7 linked regions of the Homo sapiens genome follow. The gene in region 3 interacts genetically with the main gene of each other region. Each region holds a gene or a part of one and is shown on either strand. Other genes may lie near its edges.

What was found.
Region 1: changes in TBL1XR1 (region 3) and TRAPPC12 together harm fitness more than expected from each alone (negative genetic interaction), as found in Homo sapiens cells (one large-scale study listed by BioGRID).
Region 2: changes in TBL1XR1 (region 3) and SEC31A together harm fitness more than expected from each alone (negative genetic interaction), as found in Homo sapiens cells (one large-scale study listed by BioGRID).
Region 4: changes in TBL1XR1 (region 3) and HNRNPD together harm fitness less than expected from each alone (positive genetic interaction), as found in Homo sapiens cells (one large-scale study listed by BioGRID).
Region 5: changes in TBL1XR1 (region 3) and RAB5C together harm fitness more than expected from each alone (negative genetic interaction), as found in Homo sapiens cells (one large-scale study listed by BioGRID).
Region 6: changes in TBL1XR1 (region 3) and RAB1A together harm fitness more than expected from each alone (negative genetic interaction), as found in Homo sapiens cells (one large-scale study listed by BioGRID).
Region 7: changes in TBL1XR1 (region 3) and SLC39A9 together harm fitness more than expected from each alone (negative genetic interaction), as found in Homo sapiens cells (one large-scale study listed by BioGRID).

Annotation. Positions count from the first base shown.
Region 1 is NC_000002.12:3,382,694-3,386,193, forward strand, and holds part of TRAPPC12 (trafficking protein particle complex subunit 12), read left to right. Parts: intron 1-3,500. UniProt on the Homo sapiens protein: Component of the TRAPP complex, which is involved in endoplasmic reticulum to Golgi apparatus trafficking at a very early stage.
Region 2 is NC_000004.12:82,881,154-82,884,653, forward strand, and holds part of SEC31A (protein transport protein Sec31A), read right to left. Parts: intron 788-3,500; 5' UTR 784-787; coding exon 705-783; intron 1-704. UniProt on the Homo sapiens protein: Component of the coat protein complex II (COPII) which promotes the formation of transport vesicles from the endoplasmic reticulum (ER).
Region 3 is NC_000003.12:177,022,983-177,026,482, forward strand, and holds part of TBL1XR1 (F-box-like/WD repeat-containing protein TBL1XR1), read right to left. Parts: intron 3,493-3,500; coding exon 3,391-3,492; intron 2,543-3,390; coding exon 2,516-2,542; 3' UTR 1-2,515. UniProt on the Homo sapiens protein: F-box-like protein involved in the recruitment of the ubiquitin/19S proteasome complex to nuclear receptor-regulated transcription units. Plays an essential role in transcription activation mediated by nuclear receptors.
Region 4 is NC_000004.12:82,360,492-82,363,991, reverse strand, and holds part of HNRNPD (heterogeneous nuclear ribonucleoprotein D0), read left to right. Parts: intron 1-3,500. UniProt on the Homo sapiens protein: Binds with high affinity to RNA molecules that contain AU-rich elements (AREs) found within the 3'-UTR of many proto-oncogenes and cytokine mRNAs.
Region 5 is NC_000017.11:42,144,990-42,148,489, forward strand, and holds part of RAB5C (ras-related protein Rab-5C), read right to left. Parts: intron 1-3,500. UniProt on the Homo sapiens protein: The small GTPases Rab are key regulators of intracellular membrane trafficking, from the formation of transport vesicles to their fusion with membranes.
Region 6 is NC_000002.12:65,123,607-65,127,106, forward strand, and holds part of RAB1A (ras-related protein Rab-1A), read right to left. Parts: intron 1-3,500. UniProt on the Homo sapiens protein: The small GTPases Rab are key regulators of intracellular membrane trafficking, from the formation of transport vesicles to their fusion with membranes.
Region 7 is NC_000014.9:69,440,192-69,443,691, forward strand, and holds part of SLC39A9 (zinc transporter ZIP9), read left to right. Parts: intron 1-1,640; exon of another isoform or gene 1,641-1,781; intron 1,782-1,877; coding exon 1,878-2,075; intron 2,076-3,500. UniProt on the Homo sapiens protein: Transports zinc ions across cell and organelle membranes into the cytoplasm and regulates intracellular zinc homeostasis. Participates in the zinc ions efflux out of the secretory compartments.

The sequences.
Region 1 (3,500 bases), on a different chromosome or scaffold from region 3:
GCAGGAGGATCACTTGAGCTCAGAAGTTTGAGACCAGCCTGGCCAACATATTGAGTCCCCATCTCTACAAAAAATACAAAAATAGCTGAGTGTGGTGGTGCACACCTGTAGTCCCAGCTACTCCAGAGGCTGAGGCAGGAGGATGGGCTTGAGCCCAGAAGATCGAGGCTGCAGTAAGCCATCATCGTCCCATTGCACTCCCGCCAGGGTGACAGAGCCAGACTATGTCTCATAAAATAATAATACTAATAAAATAATAGAAATAACTTAAACCATGGGTGAAAAATTGAATTGTTCTGGGAAAAATCAAGATGTATAGTTATCAAAGTGATAAGATAATGTGCTTTTTAAACTTTACTAGATAATACCAAGTGGTTTCTCAACATGGATGTTCAAAGGTATACCTCTTTCAGCTCTGTTGCTTATTTTTCTAATGGATCATTTAGTGTGCTTTTATTAATTTGTAGGGATTCTTTATGTATTCTTCGTGTTAATCCTTTCTCAGTTACATTTGTTTGTTTCACTTTTTTTAGGTTTTTAATGATAGAACTTTCCATTTTAATATAGCAGATGTATCCATTTTCCCTTTATGGTTTGTACTGATTATGCCTAGTTTAAGAGGCTTTGCCTACTCTGAAAATATATTCTCTTATATTTTCTTCTGAAAGTTTTGAAGTTTTGCCTTTCACAGTTAATTTTTGATCCCCCACCCCCGCCCCGCCCGAGACGGAGTCTTTCTCTGTCACCCAGGCTGGAATGTCGTGCCTCAATCTTGGCTCACTACAACCTCTGCCTCCTGGGTTCAAGCGATTCTCCTGCCTCAGCCTCCCGAGTAGCAGAGTAGCTGGGATTACAGGTGCCCGCCACCACACCTGGCTAATTTTTGTATTTTTAGTAGAGACGGGGTTTTACCATGTCGGCCAGGCTCATCTTGAACTCCTGACCTCGTGATACGCCCGCCCCGGCCTCCGAAAGTGCTGGGATTACAGGCGTGAGCCACCGCACCCGGCCTTCACAGTTAAGTTTTTAACGTCCCTGAGATTGATACTGTGTCTGTGGTGAGACAAGATTCCAAGTTTATTTTTTCCCAGCTGCATGATTTGTCTACACATCACTCAAGGAAAATCGTCTCTTCCTTTGATGTGTGCTACATATTCCCTTGTGATAGTTCAGTCTTGTTTTTTTTTTTTTTTTTTTTTTTTTTTTTTTTTTTTTTTTTGAGATGAAGTTTCGCTGCTGTTGCCCAGGCTGGAGCACAGTGGTGCGATCTCGGCTCACTGCAACCTCCGCCTCCTGGGTTCAAGTGATTTTCCTGCCTCAGTATCCCAAGTAGCTGGGATTACAGGCGCCCTCCACCACACCTGGCTAATTTTTGTATATTTAGTAGAGACAGTGTTTCACCATGTTGACCAGGCTGGTCTTGAACTTCTGACCTCAGGTGATCCACCCTCCTCGGCCTCCCAAATTGCTAGGATTACAGGCCTGAACCACCGTGCCTGGCCCAATATTTCAGTCTTTATACCATAGATTTTTGATGTATTCTACATAAATAATCATACACGAAGAATGAAGGTTTGTATTTTTTTCTTTTCAGTTTTTATTGTAGCTTTTAGTTATTTTTCTTGCCTTAATCCTGCCCGAGGACTCCAGTATTAGGCAGCATAAAAATGTTGAAGAGGACATCTTTATCTTTTTTCTACTTTTAAAGAGAATGCTTTAAACGTTTCACTGTTAATTTGAGGTTTCCTTTAGGTTTTTGGTAGATACCTTTGATTGCATTAAGGAAGTTACTTTCTGTTGCTAGTTTGCTGACAGGTTTTATCTTGAGCAGATGCTGAATTTTATTAGATACTTTCTTGTGCATCTATTGAGATAGTCATGTACTTTTATTTAATCTATCGCATTAAACCAACAGTACATTTCTGGGATTACCTGAGTTTGGTAGAAAATAAATACATTGCTGATTCAGTTAGCTAATATTTCAAGATTTTTGCATGTGTGTTCATGAGTGAGATGATAGCTTCCCTTTTAGTATGGCCTTGTCAAATTTTGGTCTCAAGGTTATATTAGCCTTATAAAGTGAATTGGGTCATGTGTCTTTTTTCTTCTCTGCAAGAATTTTTGTACTGTAGGAATTATCTGTACGGAATCTTTGGTAGAATTCACTGGTAAACCCTCTGGACCCTATATTTTCTTTGTAGGAAGACTTAACTACTGGTTATACTTTTTTTATGGTTATAGAACTATCTCGTCATATATACATGGTTATTACTAGTGTCTGCTTTGCATTTGAACCTTACATTGGAATAAGATTAGAGTAAGGAAACCCTTGAAGTGAAGAAGCTATTTTGCTACAAATTATATGTCCATTCTCACAAAATCTTATGTATATAATTTATATAGATGTAGCTTTATAATATATGTATGTCTTCCCATTCATAAAAGCATCATCTAAATCACGTTTTATATCATTTTTATTTGAGCATTCCTCTTGATTTTCTAGAGAAGAAACCCTCAGATCCTTACTTACAAGCATTTTCCTGCATCTAGATTTTATTTGTGTGAAAGCAAAAGTGATCATCCTTGCCCTAAATTATTAGGGCTTTTTATTACTTTGGTATTTACTTAAGAATAAAATTTATTTTTTTATTTTCTTCTCTTCTCAAAAGTGGTTTGCAGGTATTAATGAAAATTTTGGACATTCCCATTTTATCAGTTCTCCTTAATTTACAATTTATAAAGTTTTTAAGCTTTATAATTTAGAAGCATTTTACCTTAATTTTTATTATTTTGGTGGTTTTTCTAGGCGATGTTTTTTGTTATTATATCTCTGATAAACAGATTTCCCTAAATCTTACAGGTTTAAAGCAGCTTCATCTTCACAATAGTAAGAATTGTTTCTTTAAAAAGTTTCTTCACAAAGGCAATAAAACTTTTAAAATCTGTGAGATTGAATCAGAATTAGCTTTAGAACCTAGAATTTTGTTAGGGCTGAGGGTAGATGAGACGGAGGGAAGATCCCTTTCTCTCATCATTAGCTTATATCGAAATCAATTCTTATTTCTAAAATAAAATACGCAGACCACGCTAGTGCCTTCAAGTCCTGCTGGGAGACTTCAGAGGGGGCACTGCCTCATGCTGCCTGTTTGCTCCTTGTGCCCGGCCTCTATCCCTGCACAGGAAGGACCCGAAGGAGCAGCCTTACCATGCACAGGGGGCTCCCCCTTTGGGGTTCTAGGGCAATTTGTTCTTCGGGCTCCCGGTGAAACATGGCAGGAAAAAAAACGTTTTACTCCTTTTCATTGGATTTTTTATTCATTTATACTTAACAATTATTGGATGAATGTATAAGGGAATTAGTAGCTGACCAGGCTGAACCGGAAACTTCTTCAAAATGTATAACTTGGATTATGTACTTTAAAATAATGTTTTGGGAAGGCTGACTCATTGGGAATACTATGATGGAAGTGTTGACAGTGAGAAAAGGGTAGTCTTATCTA
Region 2 (3,500 bases), on a different chromosome or scaffold from region 3:
AAATCTCTGTAAAAATGGTCCCGTGATGGGGGCTGGGCACGGTGGCTCATGCCTGTAATCCCAGCACTTTGGGAGGCCGAGATGGGTGGATCATGAGGTCAGGAGATCAAGACCATCCTGGCTAACATGGTGAAATCCCATCTCTACTAAAAATACAAAAAATTAGCCAGGCATGGTGGTGGACGCCTGTAGTCCCAGCTACTTGGGAGGCTGAGGCAGGAGAATGGAAGGAACCAGGGAGGTGGAGCTTGCAGTGAGCAGAGATCACGCCACTGCATTCCAGGCTGGGCGAAAGAGCAAGACTCCATCTCAAAAAAAAAAAAGTCCCGTGATTTACTATATCTGCTTATAGACATATATGATATAACTATTTCTTTTTATATAAAAATGCTAACATCAAAATTGCTCTTCATTCATTCAAACTGATATTAACTGTTTTTTTTACATGCCATCTATTGTGCTTAATACTGGAGGAATAAAGATAAAATACAATTCCTGTGAAGGAAAATATTTTAGATGTAACACATCATGATCAAAATGCTATGGGAACACAGAGGAAGAACACTAAACTTGGCTGATAGAATGTCAGTAACTTGCCAGGGAGAGAGAGGCTTTCTAGAGAAGATAAAGCTTAAACTGAATAAGCTAGGTGCAGAAGAGAAGAAATTAGGTAACTCATACTATCTTCTCTCCTTTGAACTTACCTGTTGCTAGGTAAATGGGGTGATTCTGGGCAGGGCTCCATGCCTGCATGGCTGTACGATCTACTTCCTTTAACTTCATCCTGCTAAAGGGAATATTTTATACAGAAACAGCCTTGAATGACTTGAATGTCTAACACAGAACACAGATATTTTAAATAGAAACATACTGAACAAACCACTACAACATTAGTAATGCCCAACTGCAAATAAATCAAATCGGTTTAGGTGTCATTTGTTGGATATATTCATTAGAAAGAAGACAAACTTGAGGCCGGGTGGCTCATGCCTGTAATCCCAGCACTTTGGGAGGCCAAGGCGGGCGGATCACGAGGTCAGGAGATTGAGACCATCCTGGCTAACATGGTGAGACCCCATCTCTACTAAAAATACAAAAAATTAGCCGGGCGTGGTGGCGGGCACCTGTAGTCCCAGCTACTCAGGAGGCTGAGGCAGGAGAATGGCATGACCCGGAAGACAGAGCTTGCAGTGAGTTGAGATTGCACCACTGCATGCCAACCTGGGCGAGAGAGCAAGACTCTATCTCAAAAAAAAAAAAAAAAAAAAAAAAAAAAAAAGACAAACTTGATAAACCATTTTGAGACAAATACTGGGCTATTCTGTTTACAGATTATAGTTCTTCAGTTGAATCAGTCTAGAAAAATAGCCCACAAAAATAATAAGGTAGTACCTGAAGAATTAACTTTGCTACACATGTGTTTATCCAACTAGGATGGATGACAAAACATTACGGGTAAGAGCAGCCAAAAAATAAATAAGGTGCAACTTCCTGGAGTAGGATTACTCAATGATAAGAGCAGTTTAAAAAATTAATTCAAAGTTACAACATATTAGAGAGAATATAGTAAGCCCACAGATTTTAAAGATAAAGTAGAAATTATTAGAAAACTGGTCACTTCAAGGTATAATCCCATATACCACTTGTTTACGTATTTTCTGTCATTAAAGTTACTTTGATGGAGTCAGGCATGGTGGCTCATGCTTGCAATCGCAGCACTTTGGGAGGACGAGGCAGTTGGATCACTTGAGGCCAGGAGTTCGAGACCAGCCTCGCCAACATGGCAAAACCCCGTCTCTATTAAAAATACAAGAAAATTAGCCAGGTGTGGTGGTGCATGCCTGTAATCCCAGCTATTTGGGAGGCTGAAGCAGAAGAATCACTTGAACCCAGGTGGTGAAGGTTACATTGAGCCGAGATCATGCCACTGCACTCCAGCCTGGGCAACAGAGCGAGACTCGGTCTCAAAAAAAAAGTTACTTTGATGGAAAAATTACAACGGTATAGTATTATGTACTTTTTAAAGATCTTTGTTATTTTTACATAAATATATTGAAATGGCATAGTACTGCACTATAAGATGTACCATAATTACCTAGTCTAATACCAACAAACACCTAAGCTGTTTTTAGCTATTTTTACAAAAAAGTGCTGAAATAAATGGTCATCTGCACGTTATTTCATTAAAAAGGGACAGCTATAAATTTCCAGAAGTAAAATTGCTAAGTTAAAAGGTTAATGCAATTTTAATTTTGATGAATATTACCAAGTTGTCCTCTATGGCAATTGTGCCTTTTCATACCACCAACAGTAATATACGATTACTTATTGCCCTACAGCCTTATCAGAGCATACTGTCACACTTTTAGATCATACCAACACTAAAAAATGAAAGGCCAGGTGCAGTGGCTCAGGCCTGTAAGCCCAGCACTTTAGGAGCCGAAGCAAGTGGATTGCTTGAGCCCAGGAGTTCAAGATCAGCTTGGACAACATGGTGAAATCCCATCTCTAGAAAAAATACAAAAATTAGCTGGGCATGGTGGTGCACGCCTGTAGTCCCAGCTACTCGGGAGGTTGAGGAGGAAGGATTGTTTGAGCCCGGGAAGTTGAGGCTGCAGTGAGCCGTGATTGCGCCACTGCAATCCAGCCTGGGCGACAGAGTGAGACCATGACTCAAAAAAAAAAAAGAGAAAAATAAAAATGTTAGCTCTGTATAGTAATACTATAAATGATGTATAACATCTTTTTTTTGTATGACTATGGGTAAACATATTTCCTTTTCTGTCATCTCTTCTGTCTAGTCATGTATTATTTGACCATTTTTCTTTTCTATTCTTTTTTTTTTTTTTTTGGAGATGGAGTTTCGTTCTGTCACCCAGGCTGGAGCACAGTGGGGCGATCTCGGCTCACTGCAACGTCTGCCTCCGGGTTCAAGCGATTCTGGTGTCTCAGCCTCCCAAGTAACTGGGATTACAGGCACACACCACCACATCAGGCTAATTTTTTTGTATTTTTAGTAGAGACGGGGTTTCACCATGTTGGCCAGGCTGGCCTCGAACTCCTGACCTCAGGTGATCCACCTTCCTCAGCCTCCCAAAGTGCTGGGATTACAGGGGTGAGCCACTGCGCCCGGCCATCATTCGACAATTTTTCTATTAAGTTGATAGACTATCTTTTGACTTTGCTTTTTTCAAAAAAAAAATTTCTTTTCACCTTTCATAGGATTTTGATTAAAAATAAAAAAAGCTATATGCTTTATCTTTTAGAGTTTTACGTTCCTAGAAAAGTTGAGCCACAAAGTACAAAAAATTGCTACACATTTCCCAACCACATAACCTTTCTCACCACCAACATCGCACATCATAAAGGTCTATTTGTTTCGATCCATAAACTAACATGAACACATCATTATCACTGAAACTCCACAATTTATATGAGGGCTCACTCTAGGTGTTGTATATTCTATGGGTTTTGACAAATGTATAACAACATGTATCTGT
Region 3 (3,500 bases):
TTGTGGCTATTATGCTTAAGTAAAATAGCTAAAGAAAAAAAAGAAAAAAAAAACAGAAAAGATGACAATATCATAAAAATGTAGCTGTCTATTTTGGCAGCTATATTGCAGAATTTCTTGACTATCTTTTAATCAGCTGGGAAAAAGTCAATAACTGTATGCAAATGAATAAACTGTCCATATCAAAATACAAAAGTACTATCAATAATCACCTCTGACTTTCAGATTTAAATTCAGTGCAATTGACAAATGCATCACTAAAGGAAAATGCAGCTTAAAAGATACTCAAAACATTTGTGTCTATTCCTGGGAGCACATTTTAAAATTATTGCACAGATTTTTTTAATTTTTATTTATTTTTTTTAAACAATAACAGAGGTCAACCACAGATGTGGACCTCCAGCAATAAAAGCAGGAATTCAAGTGCCAGATACTCAGCATATTAGGTTTCCTACGTAAGTCACAGGGTAATATGTTCTAAATATCTCTAATGTGATCCAAAACCCTAAAAAGAGCTGGCACAAAACCATCGTGAATGACTGCCTCTCTTGATGTAAATTTTTAAAAATATTATTACAGTATCATAGTCCCCACTAACAACAACTGGGGTACATATAACAATGTATTGTGAAATTAAGTGTATTTATTCTCTTTACCAATAGCAAATGCTACCCTACCTTAGTAAAACCAAGACTTGCTTCAATCAATGCTGTTTTGTAAAAATAGCAAAGCAACGAATGCTGAAATCAATCAAAGCTGCATTACTTGGGTTAAATCAGTTTCTACTTAGAACACAGGTTAAAATTTTAGTACTAAAAGGCCTCAAAATAATTAGTGACAGAAATAGTGTTATTAATTTGCTAAGCTCAACAATAAGCAATTCCTTAATTAAAATCTTCGAGATATAAATTTGATGACTATTCTCTTCAGAAATGACATACCTGGATTATGTTAATCATGACAAGCCTTATTAGTCACACATATAAACATGGCCTCATGCAATCATTTGTCTGTATATGTTACTCTAAGTTGCATGAGCACAAGGTTTAATATCTATATCTTTAAGAAAATACTTGATATTATAAACAGAGTAAAAGACATGATATAGTAGTGATTACTAAAAAAAAAAAAATTAGCAGCTTAAATCTATCTATATTTGAAAAAACGTAGTCACAAGTACCACAAATGCAGAATCAGAGCAGCAGGAAGAAGGTTAGTGCAATTATACTTTCATTAAAAAAAATTCTGAATCACTGCTATTTAAAAACACCTTGAAGCAAGTCTTTTGTTTGAGATTGTTTTTTAAACTAAGGTAGCAAACATTTTGCCATGTAATGGCAGTGTTATATGCCGTTATCTTGCTTTGTATAAAGAAAACAACATGAGAGATTTTTAATACTGGAGTTTGGTTACATTACATATTTAAGCTTCTACACAGAATGATGGACACTTCGAGAAGCTAATCCTTATCCAGAAACATTTTAATCTCTTAAAAAACAAAGCAAAACAAACAAACAACAAAAAACCCAAAACTACGTTGCTCCTTTTCACAATAGTGCACATTTTTACCATAATTTAGTTATGGCTACAAAACATCAGAAGATTTTTTTTAATGTATCTTCTCTATGGTAATTAAAAAAAAAGTTGTGCCCTTCTAGTCTTTAATTGGCAGAAATATGTCCCAAAAAAGAAACTATTGCATTTAAGCCACATCACCAAAAAACAAAAAAGAAAAAAAAAAAAAAAAAGCAAAACAAAAAAACAAAACCAACAGAGCATAATACCCTTTTACTGATGTGTCTTACAGATTGACATGACCAAAGTCATAGGTTTTCATTTAATTTCCAATTCCCCCTTCCACAACATGCACCAACTGAATATATGCTCTGGGAGCCATAAAATGTACCAAACATCTACCTCTTCAAAAGAATGCATTAAAATATTTTAAAGAATTTTTTGTTTAAAAGGTGAAAAAAATATAAACAAGAAACTGATTCACTCCCTTACTTCATGCATCCATAATCTAAACCAAAAACGAAATTTTAAAGCAAGAACAAACTACTGCTGCAAGTTTTTGTAAGTCCATTTTCTCTGTACATACAAACTGCTCACTACTGAAGGGAAAAAAAGAATATAATCCATGGTGTCTGCTGATTCAAAGGGGAGAAACAAGGCTGTCATTTAGTATCCAAAAACTGGTACATGTATGTTCTGCTTTTATAATGTATATTTTTCTCTCTTCTGTTTTTCATATCCAAAACTTCTAAATGCTATTTTAGGGGCACAGCAGATTAGATTCCAGCACTTGGTGAACAGAATTCACAAGCTGTGACAAAACTCTGTCATCTTCAGGGTGCAATTTTGTTTATATACACTGTATGTATATATTTCTTTTAGATTTGGCTGTAGTGGACTGGCCATGGTTCAAGTGGGACTATAGCAGTACATGGGTCAGGGACAGTCATTTTGGCTATGTACACATTCATAGTCGGTCCATGGCTTCCAACTAGTAGCGCTATTTCCGAAGGTCTAATACACAAACCTGTAAGAAATTAAAATAATCAACCAGTGTATTCAGAATTTTATTGTACATTTTATGTTTAACTTTTCTATAGTACAATTTGAAATGTTTCTTAGTTCCAAGTTTATAAAATTGGTAAAGCATAATAATCATGGAAATGAGCACTTAACTGACAGAAATCAGACAGATCATTTAAGCAGATCAAGAGAACAACCATGAGCTCAAACTGTGGGGGAAGAACCACGGCTAGGATTTTTATACTCTCTGTTGATTAAAAAGGAGGGGGAAAATGCTCAAAACAGACCATTTCCTATCTATTGGACCCTAATGAAAGATATCACAGATTATATTCAGCTACAGCATCAGTAAATAGCTACCCTTTTCCCACCTTCTGGTGCTTCTACAGCTTTGGAAGCCATATTTGCATTGTTGTAAAGAGTTGGCTAACCTCATCCTGAAAATCTTTCAGTATCACACATTCCTCAACACAGGAACCAACTGCCTCTAGTTCTGCCTTCCCTGGGCCAAAAAAATTCTTCTGTGAAGAGGAGAAGGTAGAAATACACATTAAACATTTCAATCCTTCTCAGAATGTTCCTCTGGTATACCTAATTTCATAAATGAAGGTTCATATTAAAAATAACTGTCCATTTCTAGATTATAAGGTATTTGGTAAGGACAGCCTAAATTTTGTTTACATTATTTGAATCCAACGCACATGAAAAGTTTACAGCCTCAGGAAAAAAAAAAATCAGTATCATACCTTAAAATTTATTTTGAAAAAAACACTTTGGTATCACTAACAATAAGCTGCATTCTGATGTGAATACCCACCCACACCCTCTTTGGAAACACTTTACTATACTTACTGAACCATCTGATGCACTGGCTCCAACTTTGTCTCCTGCTGCATTCCAGCAAACTTCAAATATTCCACCTGTTCCCCTATAGCTGTGAACTAGAGCACCTGTCTAAAAGA
Region 4 (3,500 bases), on a different chromosome or scaffold from region 3:
AAAAGGCAGCAGTAGGGTTTAAACCCCGGCATTTTGTCTTTATTGCCTCTAAACTTAACTTGCTTTAAAAGATGATAAAATGTCCCACAAAGGAGCCTAAATTCCTGAATGATACTGCATATCACTTGGATAGTTATCTATGCTGAGTTGTATAACTTTATGCTTGTCATTTAATTTTACAATTTGGTGGAAGCCAATGTGAAAGCAAGGAGACTTCTGTTGTGGAGTAGGTGTTTTAAACTGAATACCATATTCAGCCTTGGGGTGCTGAATATTTAGTTCACAGCTAGGATTAAGATACTCAACTATGTTAATAAAATACAGTAGATGAAGTCCTGCATTTTAATTGGGATTGATTCACTTAGAACTAAGGATCAAAGTTTAAACTTATTGCAGCGTTAGGGGCCATCTTTGTTGCTAGTTGAACAAGTCTTGGTCGTTTTTAACATGGCTCCTTAGGGTATTTTCTGAAGTTCTGTCTACTTCATTGGAAAGTGTTTGCACTACGCAGGAGTGACAGCAATATGAAATGCTTTGTATTCAAGGCAGCAGAGGTAATCTGGACAGACAGTACATGTGCTTTAAAAGCAAGATACAGTCATAGAAAATATGTAGATAATTTAGCCGGGCATGGTGGCTCGCGCCTCTAATTTGGGAGGCCGAGGCAGGTGGATCACGAGGTCAGGAGTTCGAGACCAGCCTGACCAATATGGTGAAACCCCATCTCTACTAAAAGTGCAAAAAAAAATTAGCCTGGCATGGTGGCATGCACCTGTTATCCCAGCTACTCAGGAGGCTGAGGCAGGAGAATTGCTTGAACCCGGGAGGTGGAGGTTGCAGTGAGCCTAGATCATGCCATTGCACTCCAGCCCGGGCGACAGAGTGAGACTCTGTTTAAAAAGAAAAAAATAAGTATTTGTAAATGTATATATATATATATATACACACACACACACACATATATATATAAAATCATTATGCCATCAGTTTGAGGGAGAGCATGTATGCCAACATTGTAGAGACTAAGTGCCCATTTATCCATAATTAAGATAAGCAGACTTTTCCCCATTGTACTATAAAGTTAGAGTTTGGGGCTGGGTATGGTAGCTTCCGCCTGTAATCCCAGCAGTTTGGGAGGCTGGAGCGGGCGGATCACTTGAGGCCAGGAGTTCAAGACCAGCCTGGCCAACGAGGGGAAACCCCGTCTCTACTAAAAATGCAAAAATCAAGTCAGGCGTGGTGGTGCAGCCTGTAATCCCTCCCACGGAGGCTGAGGAATGAGAATCACTTGAACCTGGGAGGCAGAGGTTGCAGTGAGCTGAGATTGTGCCACTGCGCTCCAGCTTGGGCGACAGAGTGAGACTGTCTCAAAAACTAAGCAACCAAAAACAGAAAAAGATGGAATGGAATTAATATGTTCCATTTAGTAAAGATGGAATAGAATTGGTCCAGTTTGTGTTCATTGTAGCATATTCACCTATTTGGTCAGCAACCATTTTTTTTTTTTTAAAGCCTAAGCATACCCTGAGAACAACAACCTTTTTTGATTAGAACAGAAGAAAAAGCCAGAGTGTTCTTGGGCTGCCAAAATATTAATACGTTTGTCTCAAAGACGAGCCACTTAGGTGCTTGCTTAGAGACTTCTACTTTACACAGAATTTGAAAAGTTTGACAGCTGGCTACTTACTCTGCAAAACGGAAGGGAGACTTTTTAGAACAGCAACTGGTGATCTGGCAAAAATGAAAAGTAGAACTTGTGAAGAAATGAGATGGACTTGGTGTATTAATAGCTAATTTTAGAAGACCCTGTGGATATTCTAAATCAGCATAATAGTGATGTCTGAGCCATAGTGTTAAATTATGATTACTGTATTTGAAGTATAAGAAGGCAGAAAAGTGTGATGCTGTTAGAAAAAAATCTCATTTCAAATGATTGAAGGTTAAAAACAATTGGGGAAAGATTAGAGAGGGCAGGCGGTGCTTTAAGGGAGGTGGAATAATACTTGGCTCCTTATTCTCCAAAAGTGCTGGATAGCTGAAGTTTTTAATATTCTGGATAATTGATATTTGATTATTAGTTTAGGAGGGATAGCATCTTCAGTGAACCCTTGTAGCTCTAAGGTAGGCATATTAAACAACTACCATACTAAAGGTGGGGAGTACGTTTGGAGAGCACTTTGCTGGGCCAGCTGATGATATGCTTAGGTGATATTTAAGAAAATCTGCTTCTTGTCTGAAAAACATTTGGGGCTTCAGAATAATACCACATACCTCATTCTTGGTGTTTTAATTTATTTCTTTGTAATTGTTTTCTGTTTCTTAATAATTTTAAATTAAGGGTATTTTCCCAATATAAACATTGCTTTTTGGTTAAATAAAATCAAAACTAGTTCTGTCTCCATATCTGAATAGACCAGACAGAGAATTTTCTTGCCTTTCAACAGCTTAAAAAATGTTTTTGTTAGAACTGTTGTGTTCAGGCTGAAATACTTTCAAAGTTTGTTAGTTATTATTGAGAAATTTCTGTAATAATCATGGAAAGGGTAATTTAATAGTTAAATCTCAACTTAATTGAAGTTATTTCTGTTGTGGAACTTATGGTCATCTTAGCAAGAGGTCATTGCTTTATAGTCAGTTCTCTTTCTCATTAAAAATATAGTGTACTCACCTTTACAGGGTGAATGTTGGTAAATAACTTCTGTCTGTGAAGGAAGTATTCTGGACCTGTAAGTTAAAAATAAGGTGTTTATAGCAAATTATGTAAATAAAGATTGTATATTAGAAGGTACACACTATTCAAATTAAAGAAAATGTATATTGAGAAAATAACTCAAATTTCTTCCATGAAATTGGCAAGAAGTAAACATTTCAAATACACAAAACATTATGGGTATTTTTGTTCATTTGATTATAAAATGCCAAAGTTGTTTTATAAATGCTACTTCAAGCCTGGAAACTTTGAGGAAGTCCTGAACATTAAGCATATAAATGGCCCAGCTCTAGAATACATGTAAGTTGAAAAGCTAACCTGAAGTGGGAAGCGCAGTATATACCTAAGACTTACTCTGCACTGAAAGTTTGCTTTGTCACTAGAAGTAAAACAAGACTGTGGTAGGATAGTAAGATCAGTAACACCTCAGTTAATCAGGTATCTTGGAGGAAGTGAAGAAAGACCCTAATTCAAGGGACAGTTAATTGGCCTTTTATTCCAAGAATGGGCCTTAGTGGCAGTATCTTAAAAGCCCACAAGATGGAGATGTTTCCTAATGAAAGGCCTTTAATTTCTTTATAGAGCTGAGTTAGTGTCACATCCCAGTCCCCACCCATGACCCTTCCCCAGTTAAAAAGAAGAGAAAATGTTGAGCAAGTCTGATTTGATTCCCATGGTGACATTTTTAGCCATTATGTAACAAATTCTGACAGTTTACCCTTAAAATTAAAAACCTCCAGTCCTGTCTTTTTAAAGGGTAGAAAGAAGGTTAGGTATAGGATAGCTTTTT
Region 5 (3,500 bases), on a different chromosome or scaffold from region 3:
TCTCTACTAAAAAAAATACAAAAAAATTAGCCGGGTGTGGTGGCGCGCGCCTATAGGCCTGTAGTCCCAGCTACTCGGGAGACTGAGGCAGGAGAAAGGCGTGAACCCGGGAGGCGGAGCTTGCAGTGAGCCGAGATTGCGCCACTGCACTCCAGCCTGGGCGATGGAGTGAGACTCCATCTCAAAAAAAACAGAAAAAGAAAAAATAATTTAGTAACTCATGTAGCTACTCCGCCCTCAACAAGGGGAACATGAACATAAGTCCCTGTTCCTTAGGTGTGGGCTACACAGTGACTTTCTTCCAAAGGGTGCATGCAGCATGGAAAGGGGAAGGGGAGAACAACTTTACAGAGAAGCCTCACACACATCACCTCAGCCAAGTGATCATGGTTGACATCAGTCATGGAAAGGCTTGTGGATTGTATGTACCCTTGACATGATGTGATGAAAATAGCACTTTACCTCTCTGGTCCTCCTTCCCAAAACTTGGCACAGTCTACTTATGAAAAAAACACTGGACACAGCCAGGCGTGTTAGCTCACGCATGTAATCCCACCACTTTGGGAAGCTGAGGTGAGCAGATCGCTTGAGCTCAGGAGTTTGAGACCAGCCTGGACATCATGGTGAAACCTTGTCTCTACAAAAATTAGCCAGGCGTGGTGGTGCATTTCTGTAGTCCCAGCTACTTGGGAGGCTGAGGAGAATGGCTTGAGCCGAGATTGCACCACTGCACTCCAGCCTGGCTGACAGAGCAAGACTCTGTTAAAAAGAGAAAAATACTGGACAAATCCCAGTTGAGAAGAGATTCTCTTTATTTTTTATTATTTTTTTTGAGACGGAGTCTCATTCTGTCTCCAGCCCAGGCTGGAGCACAGTGACACGATGTTGGCTCACTGCAACCTCTGCCTCCTGGTTCAAGCGATTCTTGTGCCTCAGCCTCCTGAGTAGCTGAGATTACAGGTGCGTACCACCATGCCTGGCTAATTTTTGTATTTTTAATAGAGATGAGGCTTCACCATGTTAGCCAGGCTGGTCTCGAACTCCTGACTTCAAGTGATCCACCCACCTCGGCCTCCCAAAGTGCTGGGATTACAGGCGTGAGTCACCGCGCCTGGCCGAGATCCTCTTTAGATGCTTGCCCAGCACTCCTCAAAACTGTCAAGGTCATCAAAAACAATAAAAGTCTGAGAAACTGGCACAGCAAGAGGAGCCTAAAGAGACAATGAATATAGGTAACATGGGATCCTGGAACAGCAAAAGGACATCAGGTAAAAATCTAAGGAAATCTGAATAAAGGATGGACTTTAATGTAAAATACGTACTAACATAAGATGTTAATAACAGGGAAAACTATGTGTGAGGGATTGTGAGAAAACTCTGTACTATCTGCGTAACTTTTCTAAAAGTATTCTGAAAGAATAAGTTTATTAAGCCTCGGCAACATAGGGAGACCCCGTCTCTACAAAAAAATCAAAAATTGCCCAGGCACAGTGGCTCACACCTGTAATCCCAGCACTTTCAGAGGCCAAGGCAGGCAGACCACAAAGTCAAGAGATCAAGACCATCCTGGCCAACATGGCGAAACCCCGTCTCTACTAAAAATATAAAAATTAGCTGGGCATGGTGGCGTACGCCTGTAGTCCCAGCTACTCGGGAGGCTGAGGCAGGAGAATCACTTGAACCCAGGAGACGGAGGTTGCAGTGAGCCAAGATGGCATCACTGCACTCCAGCCTGGGAAACAGAGCAAGACTCCATTTCAAAAGAAAAAAAAAAAAGGAGGCCAAGGTAGGCGGATCACGAGGTCAGGAGATGGAGACCATCCTGGTTAACATGGTGAAACTCTGCCTCTACTAAAAGTACAAAAAATTAGCCAAGCGTGGTGGCAGGAGCCTGTAGTCCCAGCTACTCGAGAGGCTGAGGCAGGAGAATGGCATGAACCCGGGAGCTTGCAGTGAGCCGAGATCGTACCACTGCACTCCAGCCTGGGCGACAAGGCAAGACTTCGTCAAGAAAGAAAGAAAGAAAGACAGAAAGAAAGACAGAAAGACAGAAAGAAAGACAGAAAAAGAAAGAAAGAAAGAAAAAGAAAGAAAGAAAGAAAGAAAGAAGGAAAGACAGAAAGAAAGAAAGAAACAGAAAGAAAGAAAGAAAGAAAGAGAGAGAGAGAGAGAGAGAGAGAGAAAGAAAGAAAGACCAGCCTCAAGGTGAGCAGAGGATATCCAAGTACTGCAGGCACAGGACCAGGGAATGTTAAAGACCCCATCTGTGGAATACACATGTGAGGGCTGCTCATACCACTGGTCTGAACAGCTGCTGCCACCACTTTTTTAAGCCACCTTCACTCAGGAACGAGCCTTGTGCAGACATACAGAACAGTATCCACAGGCAGAGTCAAATTTGCTTCCACTGATCCTTGCTAAGTACTGGTCTGGGGTCGGTGCTGCCTCACCACACACAACTGCAGAAGCACGGTCGTTCTGTCCTGCCATCAGATACACACACGGCAGAAGCCAGTCAGCCGGACTGTGGCTAGTCAGGGCCGCGCCCTCATTGTCCCATTAAACCCTTCACCAGAAATGGAGATTTGGAGAGTCTTAACTTCTGGAAACTGAGTTTGTGACTTGCTTCCCATCATCCGTACTGTAACATTGATCCTATTGACCTGTTTGCTCTCCCATTTGTCTGTGAGCAACTTTCTGGGGGATGGACCAAAGATATGGCTCAAGCTGTGGGATCAGATGGATTTAAGTTTGAATCATAGGTTCACGACATCCAAAGTGTGTGAAGAAAGGAAGGGAAGTGTGTGTTAAAAGAAGTGGGCGAGGGCCAGGCATGGTGGCTTACACCTGTAATCCCAGCACTTTGGGAGGCCGAGGCGGGTGGATCACCTGAGGTTGGGAGTTCGAGACCAGCCTGACCAACATGGAGAAACCCCATCTCTAATAAAAATACAAAAAATTAGCCGGCCGTGGTGGCACATGCCTGTAATCCCTGCTACTTGGGAAGCTGAGGCAGGAGAATCTCTTTAACTCGGGAGGCGGAGGTTGTGGTGAGCTGAGATTGTGCCATTGCACTCTAGCCTGGGCAACAAGAGCAAAACTCTGTCTCAAAAACAAACAAAAAAAAAGAAGTGGGCAAGGCTGGGCACAGTGGCTCATGCCTGTAGTCCCAGCACTGGGAGGCTGAGGCAGGCAGATCATGAGGTCAGGAGTTTGAGATCAGCCTGGCCAACATGGTGAAATCCGTCTCTACTAAAAATACAAAACTAGATGGGCGTGGTGGTACACACCTGTAATCCCAGGTACTAGGGAGGCTGAAGCAGGAGAATCACTTGAACCCAGGAGGCGGAGGTTACAGTGAGCAAGATCGTACCATTGCACTCCAGCCTGGGTGAGAGGTCAAGACTCCATCTCAAAAAAAAAAAAAAAAAAAAAAAGAAGTGGGCAGGTGTTTGGTGTTTGCTTTAAGGGCAGGTTTGAATGTCTGCCCTCTCCTTTAA
Region 6 (3,500 bases), on a different chromosome or scaffold from region 3:
CACGAGGTCAGGAGTTTGAGGCCAGCCTGGCCAACATAGTGAAACCCTGTCTCTACTAAAACTACAAAAATTAGCCGGGTGTGGTGGCACACACCTGTACTCCCAGCTACTTGAGAGGCTGAGGTGGAAGAATCACTTAAACCTGGAAGGCGGAGGTTGCAGTGAGCCGAGATCACGCCAACGCACTCCAGTGACAAAGTGAGACTCTGTCTCAAAAAGAAAAAAAAAGAAGCCAAGTAGAGAACTGGCAAGGAAGATTTGATTTTGAAGCACTTCCATCTTTAAGACAACGTTAAAAAAAAAAACTAAACTAAAATATTTGATGGTTAAAAACTGTCTAACATCCCTCATTTTAACTTAATTTGATTAAAGGGGGAAATTTTTATTTTTTATTTTTTTGAGACAGAATCTCACTCTGTCACCCAGGCTGGAGTGCAGTGGCCAATCTTGGCTCACGGCAACCTCTTTTTCCCAGATTCAAGCGATTCTCTTGTCTCAGCCTCCTCAGTAGCTTGGGACTACAAGCGCACACCACCACGCCTAGCTAATTTGGTGTTTTTAGTAGAGGCAGGGTTTCACCACATTGGCCAGGCCGGTCTAGAACTGACCTCAAGTGATCTGCCTGCCTCGGCCTCCCAAACTGCTATTACAGGCGTGAGACACCTCGCCCAGCCAAAAGCGGGAAATTTTTTAATGCAAAATTTCAGGCTGGACATGGTGGCCCACCCAGTGCTTTGGAAGGATCGCTTGAGGCCAGGAGTTTGAGACCAGCCTGCACAACATAGGAGGCACAGTCGCTACAAAAAAATTTTTAATGTGAAATTTCAGTTGTTATCTTCATTTTATTTTACTTTATTTTGAGACAGAGTCTTGCTCTGTCGCCCAGGCTGGAGTGCAGTGGCGCAATCTCAGCTCACTGCAATGCCCACCTCCAGGGTTCAAGAGATTCTCCCGCCTCAGCTTCCCAAGCAGCTGGGACTACACGCAGGCACGACCACACCCAATTAATTTTTCTATGCTTAGTAGAGACAGGGTTTTGCCATGTTGGCCAGGCTGGTCTCAAACTCCTGACCTCAGGTGATCTACCGCCTGGGCCTCCCAAAGTGCTGTGATTATAGGCATGAGCCACTGTGCCAGGCCTCAGTTCTTATCTTTAAATGATCCTACAAGATTATCTCATCATCTCATTCACACAAAATTCTCAATATATATATTTTAAAGGTTTTATACAACTACTGAATACTTAAATTACCGGAAGAATTACAGATGGTGATATTCTATAGACATTTAAAAAATCATATTCTGGACAATGAGAATACTAGTTATCTTTCTTCTTTAAACTTTTCTGAGTTTTTCAAACCACCACCAAAAGTCACAAAGACAACCTGCTTTCACTTTCAAACACTTAAGTTTTGTTAAAAATTATTTGAAACACAATGCAAGCAAAAAAAAAAAAAAAGGTCAAATGTTTCTTGAGTATAACATGAAAGAAGAGCAAAGTCTGAAAGACTGATAACATTTTCAGAGATTCTGGAGCCATGATATACTTAAGGGGATGGGGGCTAAAAATAAGGTAAATACTTTAAACTTTTTCTGCATTAAAGAATTATAGTTGATCTAAGTAGACTACTATATTTCTTCCTACTATAGTTAGCTGGTATACTGAAGACAGGTAGACATGCTTTATTCTTAACACATTCCTTAAAGATGAACCAATCAAAATTATTTTCTTGACACTAAAAAAATCCACTGGAAGCCAGTGGATTATGAAAAATGTTATGAGAATAATCACGAGAATAATGTTAAGTATTTCTTTCTTTTTTTTTTTTTTTTTTTGAGGAGTCTCACTCTGTCCCTCAGGCTGGAGTGCAGTGGCATGATCTGGACTCACTGCAGCCTCCGCCTCCCAGGTTCAAGTGACTCTCCTGCCTCAGGTTCCTGAGTAGCTGGAATTACAGGCGTGCACCACCACACCCAGCTAATTTTTGTATTTTTAGTAGAGGCAGTGTCTCATCATGTTGGCCAGGCTGGTCATGACCTCAAATGATCCGCCCACCTCGGCCTCCCAAAGTGCTGAGATTACAGGCGTGAGCCACTGCGCCTGGCCATGTTAAGCATTTCTTAATGTGCTGAAATAATCACTGCCTGCTTCAAAACGTAGCTCAAAAAAAATCCACATTTTTCTTCAGATCCTCAAAAAAAAGCTTTAACCCTTTCTATCTACTTTTTTAACTGTTCAGATTACACTTTCAATTGCCTTTTTTTTTTTTTTTTTTTTTTTTTTGAGACAAGTCTTGCTCTGTTGCCCAGGCTGGAGTGCAATGGTGTGATCTCGGCTCACTGCAACCTCCACCTCCGAGGTTCAAGAGATTGTCCTGCCTCAGCCTCCCGAGTAGCTGGGATTACAGGCGCCAGCCAACACACCCAGATAATTTTCTGTATTAGTAGAGATAGGGTTTTGCCATATTGGCCAGGCTGGTCTTGAACTCCTGACCTTAGGTGATCCACCTGCTTCAGCCTGATCAACATTAGAGATGGCTGGGTACTCTATACAAAAATTAGCTGGTTATGGTGGCAAATGCCTGTAATCCCAGCTACTCAGGAGACCAAGGCAGGAAAATCGCTTGAACCCAGGAGGCAGAGATTGCAGTGAGCCAAGATCGCGCCACTGCACTCCAGCCTGGGTGACAGAGTGAGACTCCATCTCGAAAAAAAGAAAAAGAAAAGAAAACAAAAACAAAAAAAAACACAAACAGCCAGGCACAGTGGCTCACGCCTGTAATCCCAACACTTTGGGAGGCCAAGGCCCGGGCGACAGAGCAAGATTCCGTCTCAAAAAAAAAACAAAACAAACAAAAAAAGTAATACAGCTACCAACTCTTATGTAAACCAATATAAATCTAAAAATTCTGTTGCTTCAGAATCTTTTTTCTCAAGATCCCATTTTCACTACCAAATTTAGCAGAACCCATTAACAAAGATTATAAATTTCTAAAAGAAACAATATAAATTGGTAATGATAAACCAAAGTAACTTAAGGAACATCTGGAGTACATTTGTAAACATTAGCTAATATACCATTGTTAGTTATTAAGATAACATACTGGAAGCAGGAAAAGCATCCACCCATTAAAGTTTTAATTGAAGAGAAAGCAAGACTTTGGAGTTTGGAACAAGATGTTAAAAACGAATGAGCTTGTATTTGCGTGATAAAACACTAAAGAACTTTTCTTTCTTTCCTTTATTTTCCAAATTTTCTCTAATTACTTTTATAAAGATAACAAGCTTCATTAAAACAAAAAGAAACTGCTTAAGTCAGATTACTAAAAATCTGATTGCTCACTGCCCTTGTGACCTCCCCTAATAAAATATCCCTCACTTCCTCTCACCCTAAGTAATTTTCACTAACACTTTTGCAAAGGTTTTCTCAAATTCCTGTATTATTTTACTAAACAGTCTAGAATACAAATATAGTAGGCCAGATACCCATGTATTTGATC
Region 7 (3,500 bases), on a different chromosome or scaffold from region 3:
ATGAGAACCACTTGAACCCTGGAGGCACAGGGTTGCAGTGAGCCGATATCATGCCACTGCACTCCAACCTGGGTACAGAGTGAGACTCTGTCTCAAAAACATAAGAATAGTGTCAGGCACGGTGGCTCAAGCCTGTAACCCCAGCACTTTGGGAGGTCAAGGTGGGCGGATCACTTGAGCTCAGGAGTTTGAGACCAGCCTGGGCAACATGGCAAAACTACATCTCCACAAAAACAATATAAAAATTAGCAGGACTTGGTAGCTCACATCTGTAGTCCAGATTCTTGGGGGACTGAGGTAGGAGGATGACTTCAGTCCAGGAAATGGAGGTTACTGTAAGCTGAGATTGCACCACTGTAGTCTAGTCTGGGTGAAAGGGCCATACCTGTCTCAAAAAGAAAGAAAGAGAGAGAGACAGAGAAAGAAACAGAAGAGTACATTGTAACTGTTGTAAGGTTGGATATTATTTTGTGAAACTGTTTTGTTTTGTTTTGTTTTTTTGAGACAGAGTCTCCCTCTGTTGCCAGGCTGGAAGGCAGTGGCGTGATCTCGGCTCACTGCAACCTCCGACTCCCTGGTTCAAGCGATTCTCCTGCCTCAGCCTCCTGAGTAGCTGGGATTACAGGCACGCGCCACCGTGCCCAGCTAGTTTTTGTATTTTTAGTAGAGACGGGGATTCACCATGTTGGCCTTGATCTCCTGGCCTCGTGATCTGCCCCCCTTGGCCTCCCAAAGTACTACGATTACAGGCATGAGCCATTGCACCTGGCCTGTTTTGTTTTGTTTTTAAGAGACAGGATCTCTAGGCTGGACACAGTGGCTCATACTTGTAATCCACCACTTTGGGAGGTCAAGGTGGGAGGATCACCTGAGCCCCAGATTTCAAGACCAGCCTAGGCAACATAGGGAGACCACATTTCTACAAAAAAATTTTCAAATTAGCTGGTTATGGTGGTACTTGCCTGTGGTTTCCCAGTTACTTGGGAGGCTGAGGTAGGAGGATTGCTTGAGCCCGGGAGGTCGAGGGTGCAGTGAGCCATAATTGCACCACTGCTGTACTCCAGCCTGGGTGAAAGATGAGACCTTGTCTCAATTTTTAAAGAAGGCTTAAACTGCTTAATCTGATTATAAATGATAAATGTCTAGTATGTTATTCTCTATTCATGAAATATAGCAAAGATAAGCTTTTTGGCCTTTTGAAGCATTTATGTTTTAAATGACAAATATGTTACTGTAAACTGGGATTATCAGCTGGCCAGGTATCATTTACTGCAGTTCAGAGTCTCCCAACCTCCATATTTCTAGAACTGAATTTAGACTGAAGGATGTGCCTCTTAAACTGCTCTGCCCTTTTGGTTTCTTGCTGGCAATTGTCTGCTGATATTTTATAAAGCTAAAAATTTTCTACTCAATTTGTTCCTTATTTTACATTTTTATCTCAGCCTAGGTATAAACTAGATGAATTTGATTGCAATTATTTTCATTGTTACTGCTCTTCATTTGCCTATTTTCATCAGAAAAAAACAGTGTATTTTCTGGTGAGATTGGCATGAATTTCTCAGATAAAGGAATATTTGGGGATGGTGTCCCTTTGGGAATATGATTGCTTTCTTGCATGGTGATTTGCTTCCACTTCCCAGGTGTTGAGAATAATAGGCAGTCAGAAGGTCTGCATGCCAAAGGCAGAAGACATTTGGGAATTTTTTCATCATGAACTTTAAGTTGAAGGAGTTAATGATTGGCTGGATTACAATATAAAAAGTGGATGTCTTTACAGTAAAGTAAGTAGAGCTTGAAATACAAAGAATGGAAACTCCTACATGAAAATGTTTTTAGGGGAAAAACATATTTTCTCTTTATGGTTTATTCTGCTCTAGGAAAACACCACCAAGCAAGTGAAACACATAATGTGATTGCATCAGACAAAGCAGCAGAAAAATCAGTTGTCCATGAACATGAGCACAGCCACGACCACACACAGCTGCATGCCTATATTGGTGTTTCCCTCGTTCTGGGCTTCGTTTTCATGTTGCTGGTGGACCAGATTGGTAACTCCCATGTGCATTCTACTGACGGTGAGTGGCTCCAAGGCTTTCTGGGCAGTGCAATACATTTGCAGTTGAGAAAGTTACAAACGATCAAATATTTCAGTCTGTATCAGTGGCCATATTTAGTGCTAAAACTCTTGTCTTCCTTGGGTTCTAGTGAACATTTAACTAAGTGGGGAGAGCTAGTGAGTTGTGGCATGTGGCGCAAAGAAGTGTTTATTGGTTTATTACTTTGCTTGTCTTAAAGTTGTCACATTTGGTTGAGAGTCTAGGGCAGAAGTTCTTAACTTAGTTTTTTGCTGTGGAGCCCTTAGGCAGTCTAAAGACTGTGGACCTTTTATTGGAATATTGTTTTTAAATGTATAAAACATAGTACATAAGATCAAAGAGAAAACCACCTTTGTTGAAATACAGTTACTAAAACATCAGAACAAATTTGTGATATAGTAATGTATGTCTTTATCAGTGCATTAAATAATGAGATAATACATTTAAATCCTAAACAAGTTAGAGTTGAATTTTATTTTCTAGGACATTAGTATGCTAGCTATTACATAATAATATGCTTGGCTTAAGAACATTAAATTATGAGGTAGTCTGTAACAAGGCAACATGTATGTCAAGTTAAACATCTAGTTGATTTTGGGTTTTTGTTTTGATGGTTATTGGTGTAGAAAATCTTGATTTACAAAGGTATTTTCTTACAAATGTACCTAAACACATTTGTAGCTTGCTTTTTAAGGAATCATAAGCTTCTCTAAAGGACAACTAGAATTCCCCAAGACTTTTCAAATTTGACTCCAGTCATAGTAACTGTTTTGTTTTAAGATCAATGAATTTATCTTTGGCTAGGTCAACATTTTTCATACGATTTATATTAATAAAAAAGGATTCTGATACATGATACACTTCGATCCTGTGGTGATAGAAATAAATTTGAGAGTTATAAAACTTCTCCAGGGATTGATGTGTAGACATATTTTTTCAGATATGTCAGCAGGGAATTTTGCAGATAGGAAATATTGGAAAGCAGCATAAGTATCTTGGTCCCCAATGGGAGAGCCTTGTGACTATCACTGTTTGGTGGCTGAGTGACTGTTAGATGCAGAGCTACTTGATAGTTGCCCAGCTCCATCACATGAGCATCTGCAGACAGGAAAGCTGTAATCATGCAGTATGGCAGCAGTTCTATAAGTCCTTAATTTAAAGTAGTGATGAGTGAAAGCGATAATTTAAAGATAATCTACAACTGTAAAATAACCTGATTAGTCTGATTTCTACTGGCAGTAAAGATAGTGCTGATATTACTTGTGGTTTATTGTCTGCATTCATAATTAAAGGAAATGAGGGGGCAGTCACCATGACTCACCTGTAATCCTAGCACTTTGGGAGGCCAAGATGGGCGGATCCTTTTGAGTTCAGGAGTTTGAGACCAGCCTGGGCAACATGGCA